Homo sapiens: one gene and its partner. The protein of the gene in region 1 interacts with the protein of each later gene in a pairwise test. Each region holds a gene or a part of one and is shown on either strand. Other genes may lie near its edges.

Evidence for each region. Proteins that work in one complex are often made in the same cells at the same time.
Region 2: the proteins of NEBL (region 1) and GLE1 interact in binary tests that used the Homo sapiens proteins (3 or more experiments, as listed by UniProt).

The regions. Positions count from the first base shown.
Region 1 is NC_000010.11:20,893,752-20,903,241, reverse strand, and holds the start of NEBL (nebulette), read left to right. Parts: upstream 1-5,930; 5' UTR 5,931-6,036; coding exon 6,037-6,117; intron 6,118-6,212; coding exon 6,213-6,284; intron 6,285-9,490. UniProt on the Homo sapiens protein: Binds to actin and plays an important role in the assembly of the Z-disk. May functionally link sarcomeric actin to the desmin intermediate filaments in the heart muscle sarcomeres.
Region 2 is NC_000009.12:128,521,026-128,529,899, reverse strand, and holds part of GLE1 (mRNA export factor GLE1), read right to left. Parts: intron 7,233-8,874; coding exon 7,084-7,232; intron 6,621-7,083; coding exon 6,560-6,620; intron 6,311-6,559; exon of another isoform or gene 6,309-6,310; coding exon 6,054-6,308; intron 4,709-6,053; coding exon 4,477-4,708; intron 2,722-4,476; coding exon 2,609-2,721; intron 2,445-2,608; coding exon 2,375-2,444; intron 1,290-2,374; exon of another isoform or gene 900-1,289; intron 1-899. UniProt on the Homo sapiens protein: Required for the export of mRNAs containing poly(A) tails from the nucleus into the cytoplasm. May be involved in the terminal step of the mRNA transport through the nuclear pore complex (NPC).

The DNA.
Region 1 (9,490 bases):
GTATATCTTCTTTTGAGAAATGTCTTTTCATGCCATTACTATCCTAGTTTATAAATTAAACTTTATCATAGGTATGTATGTATAGGAAAAACATAATATGTATAGAGTTTGATACTATCTGCACTTTCAGGCTTCTATTGGGGGGCTTGGAACACATCCTCTATGGATAAGGTCTGGGGGCTACTATAATTTGCATTTCTATGGATAAGAATCATTCTCATTCTTATCAGTTTTCAACAGTTTATGGAATCGTGAAGTAGTTCAAAGATAATGAAAGAACAGTATAGTCCTGAAGGGAACACTCAGTAATTTGTTTTCTATGTGCCCATTTCAAAGTCTTTCACAATTATTCCTGACACATCTCACATAAAACTCTAGGAAAGGGACACTCTGTGGGAGTCAAGCTGTTTGATCCTGCCTGACCCTTTGGTTCTGGGTATAAGCCACATACAGACCAAGAAGAGCTTAGGTTTCTTCCTCTTGGTGGTGAAGATTGCGGGAGTGATCATGGTATTAGCTTAATTGCTATGAAAACTGAACTAATGTCTCAAGCTGTAAATGAAACCGAAGACTTTCAGCTCAATGGGCGCTATGTTAATGTAGACATTGAGAATACTTTCCTGCCCCCTCTATAAGCAGAGTACATCGTTTTAATTTGGGCTTCCCCACCACACCCAACCTGGAAATTGTTGTGCCCCATACTATTTCCAGTTTCTTGTTTTTCACTTCCTCCAACATCCATCTAACTATGTAGCTCTCATTTGTGAGTGGGATCTACATCTGTGAAAAGGGGAATATACATATGGAATATACCTTATTAAATTTTTTTTTTTTTGAGACAGTGTCTTTGCTCTGTTGCCCAGGCTGGAGTGCAGTGGTGCGATCTTGGCTCACTGCAAGCTCTGCCTCCCAGGTTCACGCCATTCTCCTGCCTCAGCCTCCCGAGTAGCTGGGACTACAGGCACCCGCCACCATGCCCAGCTAATTTTTTGTATTTTGTTTAGTAGAGACGGGGTTTCACAGTGTTAGCCAGGATGATCTCGATCTCCTGACCTCATGATCCGCCTGTCTCGGTCTCCCAAAGTGCTGGGATTACAAGCGTGAGCCACCGCGCCCGGCCACCTTATTAAATCTTAATAGCATACTTGGTCATGGTGACACATGTTTAGGTTGCTTTGTGTTCTTTCGATTTCTGATTATTAAAGAGTAATGAAATAGCTATTAAAAAGGAGAAAATATGTTCATGAATTCTAAATTGTAAAAGTTGATTGGACCAATATTAAGCAAAACTCTTCTCTTTTATAAAGGAGACAAATTGTCCTAGAGTGCTTACATTTCTTCTTTCAAGAAATGATTTATCTTGCCTCGTCCATCAGTAAAGTTCTGTTCTGGGAAGATACCAGTTACTGAGTAAATAGGTGAGGCAAAGATGGAATGACTAGGGATTCAACTGAGAAGCAGGAACCTTCCGGAAGACGGTCATCAAAACAAAAACCAGGCAACAAAAAATGAGTGTGAAAAAACCATCATGGCAGGGAAACAAATCAGGCAAACAAATTCTTCTTTCACCTAACCATTTGGAATGAATATTTTATAATAAGAAATGTTGAATTCATTTTTAAAGTTAAAAGAAAAGCAGTTTATCTCTGTACTTTTTTCCCCCCACTCAGAACTGAATTTGGATCTGTTTTAATTGTTTATTATAAATTTTTATTTTTAAATCATGTATCACCATGTTGAGGAAAAGTACATGTTCTATCATTATGAAAAAAAGGAGAAAAAAGTGAAATAAGTGTGAAACAGTCAAAAACCAAGAAAGTCTTGTCATAGGCGACCTCAAGGAAGGTGAAGACAGTTGTGCACTGCACGACTCCAGATGGTGGCACAGATACGTTCCCTTGGCCACGGCTGTGTCTCTGAGACTTGAATTACCCACCTGACAGTTGCTAAGGAAATACATTTGCTTACGTGTAAACATCAAGCTATCAAAAGATCAGAAGACTTCTGAATTATAAATAAGCAAGTGAGCTCTTATCTTTAAGCTGTCTAGTTGCAGAAGGCCCTTCTTGACTTTAAAAGGATATTAATGGCACAGAGAATGAGAAGACCTTTTCATGCCAAATGTTTTTCACATCACTGTGTACCTTTATTGGTGGTTGAAAAAAAGCTTGTGTTTGTGAGGGGCTCCACTATTTTTAAGGTGCTTTTTCTTTTTATTTTTTTTAAGAGGGAGTCTCGCTCTGTCACCCAGGCTGGAGTGCAGTGGCGCGATCTTGGCTCACTGCAACCTCCGCCTCCCGGGTCAAGTGATTCTCCTGCCTCGGCCTCCTGAGTAGCTGAGATTACAGGTGTGTGCCACCATGCCCGGCTAATTTTTTTCTTTTTTCTTTTTTTTTCGGGATGGAGTCTCACTCTGTCACCTAGGCTGGAGTGCAGTGGCAGGATCTTGGCTCACTGCAACCTACGCCTCCCAAGTTCAAGCGATTCTTCTGTCTCAGCCTCCCTAGTAGCTGGGATTACAGGCGTAATCCCATCTACTGCCATCACACTCGGCTAATTTTTTTTTTTTTTTTGTATTTTAGTAGAGATGGGGTTTCACCATGTTGCCTAGGCTGGTCTCGAACTCCTGAGCTCAAGCAATCCACCTGCCTTGGCCTCCCGAAGTGCTAGGATTACAGGCGTGAACCACCGCACCCAGCCCATGCCCGGCTAATTTTTCTATTTTTACTAGAGACGGGGTTTGACCATGTTGGTCAGGCTGGTCTCGAACTCCTGACCTTGTGATCTGCCTGCCTCAGCCTCCCAAAGTGCTGGGATTACAGGCGTGTGCCACTGCGCACCCAGCCAGTGCTTTCTTTTTATTAACTTCTGTCAACTCAGTTTTTCTGTTTAACTATGAAGAATTAGAGGTAGTGAGGGGTTGAATAATTTGCCCTAGAGGACATGGCAGAGCCAGACCTGGACTTTGAGAGTTTAGCCATAAGTGATGTCTCTTGGTCTCATTCTGTATCAAGGCATGCGTAGAGTACTAAAGTAGAAAAGTAAACAACATAAAAGAAGTGCCCAATAAGTAAAAGCTATGAGCAGCTACAGAGATTTTGCCTTTTGGAGCAACCCAAGGTGAAAATATCTATTAAAATACATTAAGCTTGGTTTTTGGAAAAGTCGATAGGGGATTTTGAAACATGATAGCTGTCCATGAGGAACACTTTCTTCATATTCTCCATGTCATATTTTAGAGCTACTGACAAGAAAACTTTGCTGTGATGAAGTGCAGGGCTTAACACTTTTTTAGAGAAAACTTTGCATGAATTTTATATTATAGGTGAGAGGAAAAAAGATGTATTCAATCAAAAGTAATGGTGTCTCTAGCTTGCCAAACGATCCATTAAAGACTTCATCCAGCAAGTGTTGAGTGATGAGTATTTTATTTCCAATTCTATCTTAGTATGAAGAATATTTTATTCACCATTCTATCTCTAACACCAAGCACAGTGCCTGGCATAACAACATTTATTTGTTGAACAAATGAACACAGGTCTCTAGTTAGGTTCTGATCCTAGTGCTTCATTGAATGGCTTTGTAAATGAGACACATAATTTTTCATAGCCTTCATTTTGTCATCTGTGAAAGAGAGGGCTTTAGGTGTATTGATTTCTTAAGGATCCCTTTGGCTTGAAATTCTGATTCTAGAATCTCAAATGGAAAATTTGTGTTCACATTGCACGTGGTGTTTGGTTTTTGTTTTCAAAAGTTTGTGCATTAAATCTCAACAGCTTATTTTCTTGCAGCACAGTGAAGAGTCCCTAAGAACATATTACGTGATGGGAAATGAGAAATAACTGCACTGCAAGCCTGATGAAGGTAATTCACCTTGGGGAATAGGTGTCACCCTGAGTAACACCAGTACTGTCTCCTCAAATATGAGCCAAAAGGTGTGTCTCAGGCAGTTTTGGCAAGATTTTCTCCCTACACTCCTAGAAATTTGCAAGACAAGTTTACAGAAATTACTCCTCCCTATTTCCAAATAAAGATAATGTAATAGATCTATAGAATATTAGAATAGTCTTCTGGCCAGCAGAGGACTTGAGGGAAATAATTGGAATGCACACATTCTTTCCTTTTACGGAACAAATAAAATATACAAGGAATGTCCTTGTGGAATCCACTACACTGGGCCAGCATGATATGGCTGTAATCTTAGAGTTGTGGTTTCCAAGTTCAGCATGCTTGAGGCAATTTCTTTTTGGTATTTTGTTGGTGAACAGGATATGTGATACCATTAATTTAGCCTGTATCAAAAACTAGTTCAAGACCAACAGCTCCTTCTAGAACACAACATTTTAGGAGAATAGAGCAATGTTTCCCTAAGCAGTCGGTCATATTTCACAGAGGAGTGTTAGTTTTCTGGGGTAGTGGGTATGATTAAAAAAAAGATAGGTAGATAGGTAGGTAGGTAGATTAGATTAAATTGGATTAGATTTGATGAGATAAACAGGTTTGTGTTCAGGGGAACACGAGGTTAAGCAAGCCTAAGCAGGTTTTTTGGTTGAAGGTCTTCTCAGAACTTCTAGTATGTCAATATGCCTTGTAGATCTCTAAGTGGCAGGGACAGAGACTGGGGTACAGATTTCCCAAACATATTTGTTTAAGAAACCTGCTTTTTTCCCCCAGAATCTTTTGTGGAACTTTTGCCTCATGGAACACAATTTCAGAAATAATTTATACGTGATGACTGTGTAGAATGTTTTTCTTGTCAGGATTTTCAGTTTAGGTAAGGCCAAGGCATTTTTTTTTTACAGTACATTGAAAACTAGATATGATATCAAGAGAAAAAATTATGCTTGGCTACTTAGAATGACATACTATTTTTAATAAATTTGTATTTTGTATCATCAGTATTACTATTCAGTGTAGGGTATTTTTTATGCCCAATGCTAATGTGCTATGACTTGGTAAAATTAATTTACCCTAGGATTTACATAACCAGATTAATAAATTGTGAGTTGTAGGGAGTCTTGGAATTGCCTGAATTGACATTAAAATATTTGTTTTGAGAAATTTTTTTTTAACCTTGGTTTTACGTAACCAAGGACATACACTACATTATAAATATTGTGATGGTTTATTTTTCCAAACTTTTCTGAATGTGGGGTGCCCATTGAGTAATAATGCAAATCACCAATGACTTTGTAAAAATTGACATGATGAGTAGAACTGCAGAATTCAAAGATGATGATGATGATTTTTGAAACGATGTTTCCAGAATTGTTAAATTATGTATCAACATATGTTAACTGCAACTTCTCATGTTTAATGATGTTTACAATTAATACAATACCATACTCGCCAGTATAATACTAACAGTCATAATTAACTCAGAATAGATTCTTTGAAGTGGTTCAAAGGGCTTTTCATAATAAATAAGTAGCCTCTAATCAGCTAATATAAAGTGGGTATTTTTTAGGATGTGAGAAGTACTGGTATGTCTGATAAAACATATAATTTAGGTTGACAAAATGAGTTTGAATGATCCAGATTCACTACCCCAAGTCAGAAGGAAGTCTGACATTCCAGTGAAAGCTTTATTTAGACAGAGACAAGGAATCTTTGAGATAACAGGCTTTGGACTGTGCTATCTTGAGTGTTAGAGCTGAGTAGTTTTCCCAGAATCTCTAAGTCCTTTTTATGCTCTTTTATGAATGAATAGAATTAGTAAAAGATAAATAAATTTTTTCTTTTGGATTTCTTAACCAGTGGAAAAAATGTTGACTTTAAAAGTTCATAAAATCAAATTTTGCTTAAGAATATGTTATTTCCACTTGTGAGGCCAGCCTGGTAGACCTCTGGGATCCTTTTCTGTTCACTCACACACCACTGAGATAAGGAGTGAAGTGTGGGCTAAATAGGGCTGAGGCTTGGGCAAGGGCATTTCTGCCAGAGCACCAGAGACGTCAGCATCTCAAGGGCACTGTGGTATGGAAAAGGACGCCACATGAGTAAATTTTAAAAATATAAATATTTTAAAGGGTAAAAATGAGGGTCCCTGTATTTGAGGATATAAAAGATGAAACTGAAGAAGAAAAGATAGGGGAAGAAGAAAATGAAGAAGACCAGGTGAGTGAGAAAACACATACTCAGACCAGCGTTTGTTCCTCTAAATTGACAATGAGAAAAATGTTCTTTCTGTTCTTTTCTTTTTTTTCAAATAGGTCTTCTATAAGCCTGTTATTGAAGACTTAAGCATGGAATTGGCCAGAAAATGCACGGAACTCATTAGCGATGTAAGTGGCTGGAGTAATTTTTGTCTTATTTTGCATTGCACCTGTGGTATTATTATGTTATAGAGTCATAGAGCTGTGGGGGAAACCCTGAAATCACCTTTTAAAACACAGTCACTTTCCAGATCATGGAACAAAGTCCTGAAATTTTCAGTGATTTCCCCAAGGTCACCTATACAGAGAATTTCTGCTAGAGCAAGTCTCCTCATTCTTAATCCAGAATCCTGTCCCTTATGAGTTTTGCTGTCACGCTGGCATGAAATCATAAGGCATTGAATTGCAGTATTTATTCCATTTGAGAACCCCCAAAGATTTTAAAATGAATATAATGATGTAATTTGTCTTGGGAGGCCCTCTATCTAAATGAATAGTCATTTTTTTAACATTTTGGGGCCTTCTGAACAATCTAATGAATGGACTTGTCTTCCAGAACAGGAAAATGCATATATATATATATATATATATATATATATATATGCATATAATATTTATTTACAATTCAGGATTTGTTGATTACTGACCTGCTTGCTAAGAACCCTGATATTAGTGCAAGGATATTAGTGCAAGGGGTATTTTTGTTGTGACATTTTTTAGTAACTGGGATTGGTTGATATTACACTTTAAGGGAATCCCAGAATTATTGAATGATTGAACATATAATTTTATGTTAAATATGTAAGCTAGAATTCAAGAAGTACAAGGAAAAATGTTGCTCACCAGGGATGAGAATTTAGATGATCCTCATTAGCGGTTCTAAGAGGATTGCTGGTCCAGAGAAAGGGTAACTCCTGTAAAGTGAATATGTGCCTGTGTCTTCATTTAGAGAGATGAGCACAATACTGGTTGTTTCTGTTGTTGATAATAAGCAAAATGATCAGAATGTTTTGCACGTTTGTTTTCTAACGGAAGTCAGTCCTGGGCAGGAGGGTAGTGGTCTGGCACATCCTCCAAAGTCAACCTGCCTGGGTTGACTCCCCAGTAACCTTGGGAAGGTTATGGAACCTGGCTTGGCTCCATCCCTCAGCTGTAACATTTATAATAAGATTAAATAATGGTAATGCATATAAATGCTGAATAAACTATCTGGAACATTGTGAGTACTCCATAAATGTTAGCTGTTATTAACTACTCTGTCTGTTACTTCCTTTTACATCCATCCAATCACAATTTAGATATGACTGGCTCTTTCTGACAAACCAGAAGGCAAGCACAAAGGATGCTGGTGGAAATCATACCCTTTCCCATATACTTGACATGTGATGTAATTACCCTTTAAATTAAGTATTTCTTTGTGCTATTACTTAATAGTCATTAGCTATTGTATGTGAAAGTTCTCTGTAAATTGCAGTAATAATAAGTGACAATGACAACAACAACAACAATAACACTATTGGCAACAGTTAAGATTTAGTGACTATTGTGTGCCAGGGATTGCAGCTTGCGAGGTAGGCGCTAGGCTTTTTCTCATTTCTGAAGCGAGGAGATAGAGGCACAGAGAGGTTCAGTACCTTGCCTGGGTCACACAGTTAAGCAGAGGCAGTAATAGTTGAACACAGAGGCCTCCCTCTTTACACTGCCAAGTTATCTCTCCCTGTAGATTTCCATGAAATGTTGTTCTTCGCCTTATTATTATTATGTTACTATTATTAGTAGTAATGCTACCAACTAAAACCCTGAGTTCCTAACCTCTTCCAGCTTTGATATATTTTTATTGAAGTGCAATTATAGCTGAGCTAACTTGTGTTACATAAACCATCAGGACTAAAGTGGTAACTGTAGTTAGTAGGTGATTTGGTTGGAGTTGTTTTGGATAAGATTGTCTATCAGTGACTTTAAAACCAACATGTTGTGAGGGGTGGTGGCCTTTATCATTATGCAAAAGCTAAATCCATACATTTCACACCCACGTAGGTAAAATGAAACAGATAGGCATACTTTCTGTTTATTACAGATTTTTGTGGCATGGTAGAATGTACTACTTAAATTTAGGACATGATTATTCTGCCTTAATTTTTTTTTTTTTTTTTTTTTTTAGACAGAGTCTCGCTCTATCACCCAGGCTGGAGGGCAGTGGCACGATCTCGGCTCACTGCAAGCTCCGCCTCCTGGGTTCACGCCATTCTCCTGCCTCAGCCACCCGAGTAGCCGGGACCACAGGCGCCTGCCACTAAGCCCGGCTAATTTTTTTGTATTTTTTTTTTTTTTTTTTTAGTAGAGACGGGGTTTCACCGTGTTAGTTAGGATGGACTCGATCTCCAGACCTCGTGATCTGCCCGCCTCGGCCTCCCAAAGTGCTGGGATTACAGGCGTGAGCCACCATGCCCGGCCTATTCTGGCTTAATTTATATCTGTATACACATTCACATTTTGCTTCCGAATAGAATTCTATACTTGCTAAGATACTTATTTAATTTTTAGATTTTTTTCCTTTTTCTCTTCTTTTCTTTCTTCCTTTTTTTCCTTCCTTCCTTCTTCTTTTTTATTTTTCTGGACAGAGTCTCACTCTGTTGCCCAGGCTGGAGTTCTGTCATGTGACTGCAGCTCACTGCAGTCTCAATTTCCTGGGCTCAAGTGATTCTCCAGCCTTAGCCTTCCAAGTGGCTAGGACTACAGGTGTGTGCTACCATGCCTGGCTAATTTTCATTTTCTTTTTCGTAGAGATGGAGTCTCACTATGTTGCCCAGGCTGGTCTCAAGCTCTTGGCTTTAAGTGATTCTCCTGCATCGTTCTCCCAGAGTGCTGGGATTACAGGTGTGAGCCACCGGGCTGGCCCTGCTTCGTTTCTGTAGATGAGAGGGATGGTTTCATGGACTTCTCTTCATGGTGCAGCCTAATTGTTACTCTTTGGACTTCTTCCAGCTTTCATATATCCTTAATAACCAATATGTAATAATCAGAACTGTGCAGAGTGGTACAGATGTGGACGGTCTAGATCACGTGTAGAGCAGGATGATGTTTTGCTTAGCTTCTAGCACCCTTTATGATGCTATGAAGAGTTTCTTAGACTTGGGAGCTGCAGAAAGCTGTTAGATCAGCTTGATAATCTGTAGACCATCAGAGCCATTTCATTCCTAATTTCTGACCTGTAGCTGATAGCTTAGGACCCATCATCTTTAAATAATAGTTTGAATTATTTTAACCACACTAGGGCTAGATCTAATCTGTAGTTTTCTGCCCTCTTGCCTGGCCCTTTGAGAACTTCTGAAGTT
Region 2 (8,874 bases), on another chromosome or scaffold:
GAGGCTGAGGCAGGAGAATGGCGTGAACCCGGGAGGTGGAGCTTGCACTGAGCCGATATAGTGCCACTGCACTCCAGCCTGGGCGAAAGAGCGAGACTCTCAAAAAAAAAAAAGAGTAGATCCCTAGGAATCACCTACAATTAGAGTGGGGTAGAAGACTAAGAAACCCACAAAGGGGAGAGAGAGAGAGGGAGAGAGGGAGAGAGAGAGAGGAAAGGGTAGTGAGGGAGGGAGGAGAAGAACCTGGAAAGTAATGGCACCATGGAGGCCAAAGGAGTAGAGTTGCACAGAGAAAGCAGCAACAGTGCCGAACAGAAACCTCAGGAAGATCAGCAAACACTTAGAAGACATAGGATCAAGGGAGACTCATGTTAGGATGTGAGGGGCTCACATATATTTACAGGCTGAGAGAGAGGAGCCTATAAAAAGGAGTAATCACAGAAAACAGGAAAGGCAATAAACGATGAGGCAGTCTGACAGGAGACAGGAAGGAAAGGGAACAAGGGCAGAGGTGGAAGGGTAAGCCCAGCAGCAAGGACGCCTCATCCAGTGACACAGGAGACTAAGAGGTAAATGTCACTGTGCAGTGGTGGAGGGGCTCTGAGGAGCTCACACTGGATGTCTCCATTTTCCTGATGAAGGAGGTACTGACCCTGTCTGCAGTCAACAGAGGGGAACTGGGAACGGCCATCGAGGTGTGGAGTGGCTGTCCAGTCAACCTCTCTTGCTTTGCTGTTGCTATCAAAGGACACAGCACTTTAAATTCCAAAAAGTGATATGTTATTTATTTATTTATACCTTGCCCTGTTCCAGAAAGAATTTCAGGCAGCAAAGTCATATGTAAGTTTTGCTGGACTGCCTATCAAGGGCAGGAACTGAAATTTTCCTATGCTTTCCAGGCAATGAGAAGTGAGTCGGGGAACGGAACCCACGATGCGTCAGAGGAGTGTTCCAGTTGCACACACACTCCCCAGCCACCTGGCAGCTCAGTCTATAATCTGGAGGCTTCCACATCTACAGCTCCATACAAATGAACCTCTGGTTCTAAAGAAGTTTCTTCCTTGTCTGGTTCTCACTTTCTAAACCTCAGTCTCTGGAGAGAAAAGGAGTCCTGGAGGATGAACAAGGCGAGCTTGGAGTAATTTGGAAAAGCTAATGTTGTAGGACAGAAGCAAAGCCTGCAAGTCACAGCCTAGGTTCCCTGAGTGATGTTTTCAGCAGTAAACTGCAACTTCAAAGCTAAGAGCCATCCTAATAATTTGCCATAAAAGGTAGCTTGTTAAAAATGAGTCAAAAAGGCCGGGTGCAGTGACTCACGCCTGTAATCCCAGCGCTTTGGGAAGCTGAGGCGGGCGGATCACAAGGTCAGGAGGTCGAGACCATCCTGGTTAACACGGTGAAACCCCGTGTCTACTAAAAATACAAAAAATTAGCTGGGCGTGGTGGCGGGCAGCTGTAGTCCCAGCTACTTGGGAGGCTGAGGCAGGAGAATGGCGTGAACCCGGGAGGCAGAGCTTGCAGTGAGCCGAGATTGCGCCACTGCACTCCAGTCTGGGTGACAGAGCAAGACTACATCTCAAAAAAAAAAAAAAAGGGGGCTGGGCACAGTGGCTCACGCCTGTAATCCCAGCCCTTTGGGAGGCCGAGGCAGGTGGATCACCAGGTCAGGAGATTAAGAACATCCTGGCTAACACAGTGAAACCCCGTCTCTACTAAAAATACAAAAAATTAGCCGGGTATGGTGGTGGGCGCCTGTAGTCCCAGCTACTCAGAAGGCTGAGGGAGGAGAATAGAACAGCGTGAAGCCGGTAGGCGGAGCTTGCGGTGAGCCGAGATCACGCCACTTCACTCCAGCCTGGGCGACAGAGCAAGACTCTGTCTCAAAAAAAAAAAAAAGAAAAAAAGAAAAAAAAAAGAGTCTTCTTTTTTTGTTTTTGAGACAGAGTCTCGCTCTGTCACCCAGGCTGGAGTGAAGTGGTGTGATCTCGGCTCACTGCAATCTCCGCCTCCTGGGTTCAAGCAATTGTCCTGCCTCAGCCTCCTGAGTAACTGGCATTATAGGTGAGAGCCACCACACCCAGCTAGTATTTGTATTTTTAGTAGAGACAGGGTTTCACTATGTTGGTTAGGCTGCTCTTGAACTCCTGACCTCGTGATCCGCCCACCTCGGCCTCCCAAAGTCCTGGGATTACAGGCGTGAGCCCAGCCATGATTATATCAGGGAAACAAGATGTATGTCACTTATATGTACCCGATCCAACTGTAAACATTTGTTTGAATATACTTTTATAGGAACCTTACAGATACATAGATTTGGAGTCTGAAAGATAATACAATGAAATGAAAGGTCATGTTCTCAACCCCTCTGACCAACCTGCAATGGTAGAGATTTGGCTCACTGGGATGGTAGCAGCCTTCTGGAGGTCCATCTTTATCTTTTTGGCCTGCCAGAAGAGAACAGTGAGAAAGCAGTGTTCTGAAGAGCTGAGTAGATGTCACTTAGAATCAGGTAAAGTGACATGCCAGCTACATTCCTTTGGGACACGAAGTGATCATTCTCTGAGAACCATCAAGTCCACAAAATTACTGCCATATACCTCTCCCCTACCTGACTGTCCTTGCTGTTGGTCAGGCCCTCAAAGGTCAACACACACTGCATGGAAGCATCCTGCAGCTGCTGGTACCACTGCATTGTAATGTCTTGTACCTTCACCTGGAGGTCTGAGAAATAAAAGAGAGGTTTTAGTAATAGCTAGTATTTACTGAACATGTAATATGAGGCAGGCACTGTTATAATCACTTTATGTATGTACTGACTGCTTTAACTGTCACCATAACTATGAAATAGATACTATTATTATCTCCATTTTATAGAAAAGGAAACAGGCACAAAAAGGTTAAGTGATTTGCCATGGTCACATTACTACTAAGTAGAAAAACTAAGGCTGGGTGTGGTGACCCACGCCTATAATTACAGTACTCTAGGAGGCCAAGACAGGCCCAGGAGCTTGAGACCAGCTTGCACAACATGGTGAAATCCCATCTCTACAAAAAATACACAAATTAGCCAGGCAGGGTGGCGCATGCCTGTAGTCCCAGTTACTTGGGAGGCTGAGTGGGGAGGATCACTTGAGCCTGGGAGGGTGAGGCTATAGTGAGCCATAATCATACCACTGTACTCCTCCAGCCTGGGTAACAAGAGTGAGACTCCTATCTCAAAAAAAAAACAAAAAACAAAAAACGCTGGGCGCAGTGGCTCATGCCTATAATCCCAGCACTTTGGGAGGCCAATGCTGGCAGATCACCTGAGGTCGGGAGTTCGAAACCAGCCTGACCAACATGGAGAAACCCCGTCTCCACTAAAAATACAAAAAAATTAGCCAGGTGTGGTGGTGCATGCCTGTAATCTCAGCTACTCAGGAGGCTGAGGCAGGAGAATCGCTTGAACCTGGGAGGCGGAGGTTGTAGTGAGCTGAGATTGTGCCATTGCACTCCAGCCTGGGCAACAAGAGCAAAACTCTGTCTCAAAAAAAACAAAAACAAAAACAAAACACACCAAAAAAGAAAAATTAGACTCCCAGGCTGGGTGCGGTGGCTCACACCTGTAATCCTAGCATTTTGGGAGGCCGAGGCGGGTGGATCATGAGGTCAGGAGTTTGAGACCAGCCTGGCCAACGTGGTGAAATCCCATCTTTACTAAAAATACAAAAATTAGCCAGGCACAGTGGCAGGCACCTGTAATCCCAGCTACTCGGGAGGCTGAGGCAGGAGAATTGTTTGAACCCGGGAGGCAGAGGTTGCAGAGAGCCAAGATCGCGCCACTGCAATCCAGCCTGGGCAACAAGAGCAAATCTCCATCCCCTCCCCGCAAAAAACAACAACAACAACAACAACAACAAAAACCAGACTCCCACTGATCTGGCTCCAGAGTCAGCACTCTCAAACACTATGGTACACTGATTCTTTTTCTTTTTTTGAGACGGAGTCTCACTCTGTCACCAGGTTGGAGTGCAGTGGCACCACCTCAGCTCACTGCAACCTCCAGCTCCTGGGTCAAGCAATTCTCCTGCCTTAGCCTCCCGAGTAGCTGGGACTACAGGTGCGTGCCACCATGCCCAGCTAATTTTTTTATTTTTGGTAGAGATGGGAGTTTCGGCATGTTGGCCAGGCTGGTCTCGAACTCCTGACCCCTTATACGTATTACACCAACACATATCTGTGCGCATTTATTTAAAATACTCAGCAGCAGCAATAATTGAAATAATGTATCTGCTAGAGTTATACAGAATTTCAAGTCCTCACGCAAAGTGTTGGAATCGTAAATCAGACTCTACATCAACCAAAACTGAATGAAATACATTACATAAAATTCTGGTTAACTGTCCTACAGTTTAACACAACATTCAAAACATGCTCTTGTTTCTCTTCACATTTGAAACTTACGAGTTAAAGGACCACATCCATACTGAAACCCACCTTCATTCTGTTTCCCTCCTGGGCCCTGGCTGGGAGCTGGGGGCTCTTTGTGGGCCTCTGGTCCCTGCTGCATCTGTGCCTCTTGCAGCTTTACCTGGGCCTCTTCTTCATCCTGCCTCCTCTTGTCTTCGCAGGCTCTGGTGATCTCCTGCCCCAAGTTCATCAGGAGGTCCCGCATTTCCCGCAGAGCTCGCTCAGCCTCAGCTTGACTCTCTGCTGTGGGATAGCTGCTCTGTCAGAGTGACGGAGATGGTGCTTAGTGGTCATTCCCTAGGTAAATCATACCTCATACAAGTCAATAAATTTCCTGCAATTGGAATTGTTGCACCAATGGAGTATCCACATTCAACGAATTGATACTTCTTTCCCTGTTCTCTTAAAGGTATTAATAATTCCAACTTACTGTCACATCCATAGTTTCTAAGTATAAATTGGTCTGTATTCTCAGCAACAAGGGCCAGCGTAATTTTTTAAAAAGTTTGTGACAATATGTTAGACAAAAATAATACTGTTTTATTATAATAATAATTATTTTTTGAGACAGAATCTCCATTGCCCAGGTTGGAGTGCAGTGGCAAGATCTCGGTCATTGCAACCTTTGCCTCCCAGGTTCAAGTGCTGCTCGTGCCTCAGCTTCCCAAGTAGCTGGGATTACAGGTGTGCGTCACCACACCCAGCTAATTTTTGTATTTTTAGTAGAGACTGGGTTTCACCATGTTGGCTGAAACCTACTGGTCTCGAACTCCTAGCCTCAAGTAATCCGAGAATCGCTTGAACCTGGAAGCCGGAGGTTGAAGTGAGCCATGATCACACCACTGCACTCCAGCCGGGGCAAGAGTGTGAGACCCTGTCTCAAAAAAAAAAAAAAAAAAAAAAAAAAAAAGCAAAGCAAAGAAACAGGGCAGGTACAATGGCTCGTGCCTGTAACCCCAATACTTCGGGAGGCTAAGGTGGGAGGATCACTTCAGCCCAGGAGTTCAAGACCAGCCTGGGAAACATAGTGAGATCTCTATTGCTAATTTAAAAACAAAACGAAACAAAAAAAGTTTGGCACCGTGGCTCACACCTGTAATCTCAGCAGTTTGGGAGGCCGAAGTAGGGGGATCACTTCAGCCCAGGAGTTAGAGACCAGCCTGAGCAACATGGCAAAACCCTGTCTCTACAAAAAAATACAAAAATTAGCAGGGCATGGTGGTATGCGCCTGTAGTCCCAGCTACTCAGGAGACTGAGGTGGGAGGATCACTTGAGCCCGGGAGGCAGAGGTTGCATGAGCTGAGACTGTGTTACTGCACTCCAGCCTGGGTGACAAAGGGGAACCCCATCACAAAAAAAAAAAAAAAAAAAAAAAAAGACTCCAGAATAAGCAGGTATAAAAATAAAGAAATAAATAAAAGAAACAAAATAAAATGTTAACAGTGGTTACTTCTAGGTAAAGAGATATGGAGATAACAAGTAATGTTTGGTATTTCCCCCAATAAGCAGATAGCAGGTATTACTTTTTAAGTCAGAAAACAGTTTTGCTTTTAAAGGCTTCCATTTCAAAGACAGCAAAGAGTCACTCTGAAGCCCCCCTCACCTCTGAAGAGGCCCGGATGATCCCTGAGATGAGGCTGCACAGCTGGTTGCCTCGGGTCTGGAAGGCAGCCAGGTCGACCTTAAGCAGGGCTTTGTGCTGCTCAGAGGCATCCAGCTGCTGGCTGAGCTGCAGCATCTCCTCCTGCAGAGCATAGAGGGCCCGCAGGCGGATCTGGCCTTCTTCCTTCCGAAGCCGCTCCTGTTCTGCTTGCTTCACGCGCTGCTGCTCTGCTTCCCGCAGCTTCAGGTTGAGAATCTGTAGAAAAGGGCTGAGTGACTTCTCTCTGAGGGGTTCCTGGGCTTCTTCTTTCTACAGTCCTCAAATTCTACGTGGGCTACATATTTTCACAGATGGGCTCAGAGCAGGAAGAGGACATCCCAAGGTTAGTCATACACAGGCATAATACGGCCCAGATCCTCCATGGTGGCCATCTGCCAAAACCTGGCTCTCCAGGCAGGTTACAGACAGACACCAAAACACCCACACCAATTCTGCCAGGCTCTGACCTTTGCTCTGTGACGGTGCTCAGCTTTTAGCTTCTCTTGGTGTCCCAAGGCTTCTCTGGAGCTGCATGAAAAATGGCAGGGAGGAATAGTCAGGGATACTTCCTGAAATTGTTTTTCTTTCTTTCTTTTCTCTCCCTCTCCCTGCCCTCCCTTCCCTTCCTTCCCTTTTTCTTAGAGATGGGGTCTCGTTATGTTGCCCAGGCTGCAGAGCATAGCTCACCACAGCCTCAAACTCCTGGACTCAAGCAATCCTCCTGCCTCAGCCTCTCTAGTAATTGAGACTACAGCTGTGTTCCACCACGCCCGTAAAATTGTTTTACCTCTCCTAAAAGCCTCCCTCTTTGTGTTCCTTTGGTTGTCTCTCCAAGTTTGGTCTTTTTTCCAGGTTATAAAATTCTCTGCCTATTTTACCTTGATATTTAAGGACTCAGAAGTTGTTCAACTCTTTCCCTTTGGAATTCCTCTTGGGAAAGAGTTCCAGTTGAACACATCAACATTCCCAGTCATAATTCAGGGAGACTCACCTCTTCTCCATTACTTCCCGCAAGTCCTGGAATTCTTTATGCTGCTTCAGTTCCTTCCATTCATCAAACCGCTTCAGTTGTTCAGATGCCATCTCCGAGAGGGCTTGCACCTTCCTCTCCTGCTCCTCCTGCCATAGCCTCAGGCCCTCCTGAAAAGGTTTTTTTTTTTTTTTTTTTTTTTAAGATGGAATCTCTCTCTGTCGCCAGGCTGGAGTGCAGCTCACTGCAACCTCCAACTCCCGGGTTCAAGCGATTCTTGTCTCAGCTCCCCAAGTAGCTGGGACTACAGGTGCCTGCCACCATGCCCAGCTAATTTTTGTATTTTTAGTAGAGACGGTTTCACCATGTTGGCCAGGATGGTCTTGATCTCTTGACCTTGTGATCCGCCTGCCTTGGCCTCCCTAAGTGCTCGGATTACAGGCGTGAGCCACCTCGCCCGGCCGAAAATGTTTAACACCTGCTCTCTGGAGCGCCTTCAACACCTTGATCATTTACCCCTGCGGGCTACCTGCCCATCGGCCCCTAACACCATCAGAGATACTTAAGGGCATGGAATCAGAACCTTTGCAGGAATATCCTTTCTCCTTTTGCTTGATCTTTAAGCTCAGCTGTTTTGGAAAGCTCTTCCAATTGCCCCATATGGTTTATGTCACTCCAGTACAAGTTGGGAACGGACAGGAATTTAGCAACATGACATCAAACAGCCATGCACTATTAAGCTTCCATCCTGTGTAGTCTTATGGGGTTCATTGGTAATTTACGGAAATCCTCATTCTAATTCCATAAACAAGCTATACACATTCCTATCTCACTGATTTTGTTAATCTCTGCCTCGAAGATTTTCTCCTGGACCTCCACTAAGGAAAGTCCTTTTCCTTAGTACCTAAGGGTATCAGATATTGAATTTATCATTTCATGAGAGTACTCACATATGGTTAAAGGCAATTTGACATTTTAACTATCAAAATTTGAAGTGTCTATATCCTTTGACACTTGTTCCATTTCAGGAATTTATCCTGAGGAAATGCTTGTATGTGTGTGCAAAGATATATGTACAAGAATGCTCACTGGAGCCCTGTTGATAACAGCAATACATTTAAAACCACTTAACTGGGGAATGACGACACGTATTATAGTACAGTCATACTGCAGAATACTATGCAGCCCTTAAAGATGACGAGATGCCAGCTAGCATGGAGATATGTCAAAATCTACTGTTAAGACATTATGTTATTTTATTTTAAAACATAATTATATTTTATTTTGTTTATTTGTTTATTTTTGAGACAGGGTCTCACCCTGTCATGTAGGCTAGAGTGCAGTGGCACACTTATAGCTCACGGCAGCCTTGAACTCCTGAGCTCAAGGGATCATCCCAACTCAGCCACCTGAGTAGCTGGGACTAAAGGTGTCCACTATCACACGGGGCTAATTTTTAAATTTTTTATAGAGTCAGGGTCTCACTATATTGCCCAGGATGGTCTAGAGCTCCCGATCTCAAGCTATCCTCCCACTTTGGCCTCCCAAACTGCTGGGATTATAGGCATAAGCCAACTGTACCCAGTCTTAAAACTTATTTTAAAGCTTCCAGCGAAAGAAGGCAAACTAAACAAGCATATATGTCCTCTCCTCTGGGACTCTGTTAAAGTGAGAATTGGAAAGAAAAAAAAGACATAACACCACATAGAGCATGAGAGATGTCACCAGCAGGGAAAAATCTTCTACATACTTCTGGAAAACAGTCAGTGGAGAAATAGCCAGGTGCACTGGCTGAGATCTGTAATCCCAGCA